2 separate regions of the Homo sapiens genome follow, and region 2 is linked to region 1. Evidence: fine-mapped expression QTL. A gene starts in region 1. The other region holds a variant in brackets. All regions are shown on one strand. Distances are from middle to middle. Region 1 holds the start of ST6GAL2 (ST6 beta-galactoside alpha-2,6-sialyltransferase 2). Region 2 has its middle 200 kb from the start of LINC01789.

Region 1 (2,910 bases):
GGAGAGTGGGTAAAAACAGGTTCAAGGCCACACATCAGTTTTCCTTTTAAAAAAAGTTTTAACCCTAAATTTGCAGCGCATATATATATATATATATATATATATATACATACACACACACACATATATACATATGTGTATGTATATACATATACATCATATATATATAGCACTTCACTTTATTGGAATTCTTCCTTGGTCATAAATTATATTTCAAGTTGGCAAAAAATGTTGATCAGAATTTCAAAAAAGGGAAGCATCAAAGTAACCAGCATGGGGTTTTTCAAGTGTGCAGAAAGTTCTCTAAATACAAAATGTGCTTCCAGCCCACCAAAGACCCCCCTCACCCAAGCAGGCAGTCCTCGGCGAGGAGGGTCAGCATGCCCCTTTATGGTCAGAACGGCAGTGGTGCAAAAGACAATGATTTCAACCAAATATGGTTTGCCTCTCGCCAAATTTTTCGCATGTCCAATAAAAATAAGTTCACAAAAATCCAGCCAAGCATTACTTTCCCCCCAAAAGTGCTTCTCAGATTACAAAACAGCTTTGAAAGTTCAGCCTGACAAAACAAATATGGTACTAGGAGGAGAGACCTGGAAGGCAATCACAAAAAGTCTCATTTAAATTCCTGGAAAGCACAGCTTCTCCAAACACAGCTATTCAGCTCTTTGGAAGGCAGCACTTGCGGGAGCCATTGAGTTTAACTTCACTCAGTCCCCCAACACAGAACCGGCAAATCCGAATGAGATGGACGTCACACTCCCTACTCAAAAGAATGCATCAAATATCCACTCCGTAACACCGCGGAAAGTAAACCCAAAAGCGGAGTTTGCCGCCTGCCAACTACATAAGAATTAACACTCGGGTATTTAGGATTCTAAAGATCCCTACTACCCCAAACATTATAGCCACAGAGAACCAGAAATGAACAGAACACACTTTAACCTTTAAGAAGTGCAGTTTTGTACGGGGGTTGGCTGAAGAAAGACAAAAATCTTCACTCCCTTCCAGAGCCAAAAGAGCCAAAATAAAAGATCACCTTTACTGAGCCACAGGGGCACAACTGTATCCGCCCGTCCCCAAAGCGCAAGCCGTCCTCCCGTTCGCTTCTCCAGAATTTCCTGCTTTTCCCCAAACCACCTTCAACATTCCCCACACACGGGTCTCGCTCCTAAACACGGAGTGTAACTCCGCGCACAGCAGCGCGGAGGCTGCAGCGCCACCAAGAAAGGCGTCGCCAACCCTTACCCAGTGCCCTCCCTTACCAGCCTTCTTCCCACGCCGCGCCTCGAAGCGCACGACACCGTGGTGCTCGGTGCTCCCCCTGGCAGCGCGGCACTGGAGTCCAAGGCGTGCGTGTCACATTTTATTCCCCGGCAGCCGCTCGGGTGCGCGCGCTACGCGCTCCCACACTCACGCTGGCGCCCGCTAGAGCTGGGACCCTGGCCGGGGTCCCCGACTCACGCCGCGGAACTTGGGGGCTGCAGAAGGCGAGTGCGCGGCGGGAGTCGTCCTGCCGCAGGCTCGAGTCCTCCTCCTGCCACCGTGGGGTCTCGGAGCTGCCCCGCGCTCCCGTCCCAGGCGGCCTGCGGGATCACCTCTCCGGGGCCAGCGCTGCTCCGCGCCGGCGGCAGCTGCAAGCGCGGGCGGCGGGGCACAGCGGGTGGCTCGGCCTCAAAGCCGGCGGGAGGCTACGCTCAGCCCCGCGCTGCACGCCTCATTGTTTCGGGCAGCGCGGCGGCGGCTCCCGCGGCCAGAGGAACCGCGGCCCCGAGCCCCGGGGAGAGGCGGCGGTTCCCGGCCCACGCACCGAGGCTGCGCCGCGCCCCGCCCCCGAGCTCCGCTCGCCCCAGAGCCCCCTCCCTCTCCGCGATCCCTTTCATCCTTCCCGCTCCAGGCTCACCTAGCTGGCGGGAGCCGGGCACTGGGAAGTTGGGCTGCCCCCTCCCCGCGCCCCCGGCCCGGCAGCTCGGCCCGCCGGCGAGCGCAGGCGGGGCGCTCCCTGGCTGCGCGCGGATTTCTGCTTGTCGCGGAGAGTGACTGCAGACTTGGGCTGCGTGGGGCGGTGCGGGGCAGCACGGCTGCCTAAAAAGGCGTGTTTCTCCCCGGCCGCCGCCTCCATCCAGCCCTAGTTCTTCCGAAGGTTACCTGCACAGTACCCGCCTGGCACCGCGCCTGGACACCTCCGGGGCACTCGGGTCCCGGGCGGCGGCAGGAATGCAGGAATGCGCACAGGCTGTGGGCGGCCAGGAGGGAGTCCCGGCGCCTGCCCCGGCGGAAGTGAGTCTTTGTGTACCCTGTCCAACACCTCCCCCCGCCAGCGCGGAAGGCCGGGCTACCTGCGCGCCTGGCAGCGCCTGGCAGCCGGCTGGGTGGGGCGCAGGGGAGCGCAGCATCCTCCCCGGCTCGCTAGCTCCCTTTGTTCATCTCGCTCAACCAGGCTCCGCACTGCCGCCTGGCCCTCGCTCCCAGAGCTTCTCTAAGGATATGGGATGGACTTGGGAGCGGGCCACCTTTCATTTGGGAAGGGTAGCTCGCCAAGTCCGGTGACGGTGCTCCCTGGAGACCCCCACCTGCCCGCCCCTCCACACTGCCGGTCCCCAACCCCAAGAGGGACGGAAAGTTCTTGGGGTAGAAGCCGGCGGGACAAGTGGTTGAAGCAGCCTCCGGAGCCAGTGGGCGGCTGCGAGCTGGGCAGCTGGAGCCTGCGGGCGGGGCCGCGGGGAGGTGCCCATCGAGTGTCGGTCTGGTCGCGTGCGGAATGTCCACTTGTCACCGCGGCCCTTGCGTTTTCTCGAGACGGCGGCAGCTGGTCCTAGGACCCCAAACCGCGCCGCCCTTTGTTTGCTGGTAAATACTCTCCTGTGAACTTCAGCGTGTCTCTCCGCGCGCACTCCTGGCATTGGGTGC
Region 2 (2,910 bases), 280 kb after region 1:
TTAAAATTCCTAACCACAACAAAGCATTTACTCTTCCCTGTCTGTTTCCTTCCTTGACCCTTAAGCTATTTTTTACTGCCTTTATCAGAACTCTCAAAACAAAGTGTCTCCCTCAGGACAATTGTACTTCTTCCACCTGAGGTTGAGATGTGTTTGCCTTTCCCAATCTGAGAGATCTATATCTGTTTTATCTCCTAAACTTTGATGAATGAATGAATGATTTATAAACCAAAGGGATGAGGCTAAGCCATGTGCTCTGTATTATAACAACTCTTGGCTTGAGGCTTTCTCTATGTAATAACCATGCCAAAGACGTATATTTATTGGTTTGTTTATTGAAATTTTTCTTATATATCTTTTATTTATTAATTAGAAGTTTTCAAAGAAAGCTGGAAATTGTCTTTATCACTGGCCATTAGACAGAACATTTAGTATGGCTAATGCTGCTTCACCATAGACACACAAATGCCCCCAAATTCCCTAAAACCATGTTCAGCTCCATTTATTTAACAAATCAGAACAAGATTCAGTAGAACTCTCTGCTCCTCTTCTTTTGGGAACATCAAATGCTCAGGGTGTGTCCTCATCACTGCTCATGTACAGATTCATTGTGACACTTTAGGCATGAGTGATTAGGCCTTGGAGAAATGAATTGCTTAACCAAATGCATAGGAAATTGGTGATTAAAATACGATATTAAATTTAAATTTGATAGTTAGCAAGGTAACTGCCAGGTAGTCAAAAATACTCTCGCCTACCGGGCGCAGTGGCTCACGCCTGTAATCCCAGCACTTTGAGAGGCTGAGGCGGGCAGATTGCCTGAGATATGGAGTTTAAGACCAGCCTGGCCAACATGGTGAAACCCTGTCTCTACTAAAAATACAAAAATTAGCTGGGCGTGGTGGTGGGTGCCTGTAATCCCAGCTACTATGGAGGCTGAGGCAGGAGAATCGCTTGAACCTGGGAGGTGGGGGTTGCAGTGAGCCGAGATCGCGCCACTGCGCTCCAGCCTGGGCTACAGAGTTAGATTCCATCTCAAAAAAAAAAAAAAAAAAAAAAAAAAAAAAAGTCTTGCCTGCATGTTGCCCCTGTCCCAACCTGGGGACACAGCAGGAGGACCAAAAGACCTGAGTGTCAGCTCAGGGGTCCTGGGCAATGTTGACAACACATTGAGAAACTCCCAGCACTTGCCTTTCCCATTTCTAGGCATCTGGCACATCCCTCCCTGCTGACTTCCAAAATCATCTAAGATCAGTTTGATCAATTGTGTCACAATTCATCTTGTATTTACCACATTTTTTCCCTTTTGTGGAAGTTGGAAATATACGTTAGTTTAGGTATTCTTAAAATTTTTGTGTTGGGACCTCTTGGACTCTCTGATGAGGGCTGTCTCCCAGCTGAGCATGTAAGCTCACATTCCCTAGGCCCGCCCTTGCCCCCAGCATTGGCACCCACTCCAGAGAGCCCATCTGCAGAGTCCTGCAACCCCAGCCAGTCTTAGCTCTTTCCATACACTGTGGCAAGA[T/TATC]ATTTATCATTGGTAAGTAGTTCATAAATTCCTTGCATATTAAAATGTCAATCATTTACTTTATCAGTTTAAGCTGAAATTTACTTGCTTTTCTCAAGACGATTAAAGCTAGTGAGAAATATTTGAATGGTAATACTTCATTTTTAATATTGGGCAATTTAAAATTGATAACATGGTTATTAATGTGGTGAGTTCATGAGTGGAAACAGTGTAGTTTGTTGTAATATTTATGCTTTTTTAATGCTTTCCTCTAGCTTGCCAGCTCTAACACTAGAAGCAGCCTCAGGAAGAAGAGGGTTAGAAGGTGGCTTTGGCCAAGGTCTTACCCATGATACAATTAGCTAATGTTTCATGAGAGTTTACCTTGTTCCAGGCACTGTGCCTCACCAGTTTCCATGCCTTATTTCATGTTATCCTTATAACAGCTGATGATCTGGGTACCATTAACATAAGCGCCACTGAGCAAGGATTTTTATTTTGTTTGCATGTGATCCTCACCCCAATTAGACTGCCTGGTTGATGTAGGTATCATCTATACATTGTTGTTGAATAAATGAATCATCCCAATGGAAAGGAGGCTTAGAGAGTTTAAGTGACTTACTGAAAGCTAAACAACTTGTAAGTGCTATAATCAAGTCCAAATCCAGATTCAAGTCTTTAACCTGTAGGTTGCACTTCCTTCTCTAACTAGACAAGAAGAGCAATGGCCCCACCTCTTACTTCTGTGGTTCTTCAGTTTCCCCTGGCCTTTAATGCATTCTGTGCCTTTTGATCCTCATGGTCATTAGAACAGGTGTGGTCACCCACGGTGAGGAATCTGAGGGTGGGGAAGTTAAGAAATGATTGGCAGCCTGGTAGTGCACACAGTTGGAACTAAGTGAGGCAAAGTGCCTGCAGCTTCATAAGATGATAAGGTTCCAGTAGTGGAGTTCAATCTGCTTTAGCTCTGAAATAACAATACCAATCATCACAATGGCCAAACAATGTTCATTTGATTTCTCTGCCCATAAATCTTCTTGCTCATCAGTCTCTCAATTTTCACACTGTTAAGGTTCTTCTTATGTGACAAACTGACCACACCCATTGTCCTGCATTCACCTACATGCTAATAACTCCCAATCTCGATCCCTAGACTTCTCCCTTGAGGAGCAAACCTATATTCCTTAGTGTGCAGGAGAAGCCCGTGGATGTCTCTTATCTGAGTGGCGTGTAGTCATTGCAACTTATCCTACTTCTGAGGAACTTATTACATCTGGTCTTTTGCCCTGTCACCAAGTTTATACCCATCCAGCACACACTAATTCGACTCATCCCAACCTCATCCAGCCAGGCTTCCAAGATAACACCTCACAATCATCTTTACCAATTCTCTGCTCATCCAAATA

What was found. PIP is the estimated chance that this variant, and not a neighbour inherited with it, causes the effect.
Region 2: its variant is fine-mapped to the expression of ST6GAL2 in sun-exposed skin (GTEx, PIP 0.99).

Annotation. Positions count from the first base shown.
Region 1 is chr2:106,884,828-106,887,737 of GRCh38, forward strand. It overlaps ST6GAL2 (ST6 beta-galactoside alpha-2,6-sialyltransferase 2), which reads right to left and starts at 1,340. Exons shown (of 6, transcript NM_001142351.2): 1 at 1,266-1,340. LOC124907864 (a long non-coding RNA gene) reads left to right here and starts at 1,706. Exons shown (of 2, transcript XR_007087169.1): 1 at 1,706-2,280.
Region 2 is chr2:107,163,610-107,166,519 of GRCh38, forward strand. No RefSeq gene overlaps it. Among named protein-coding and RNA genes, the nearest start is that of LINC01789, 200 kb to the right of the region's middle. The variant T/TATC (reference allele first, on the strand shown) is at 1,526.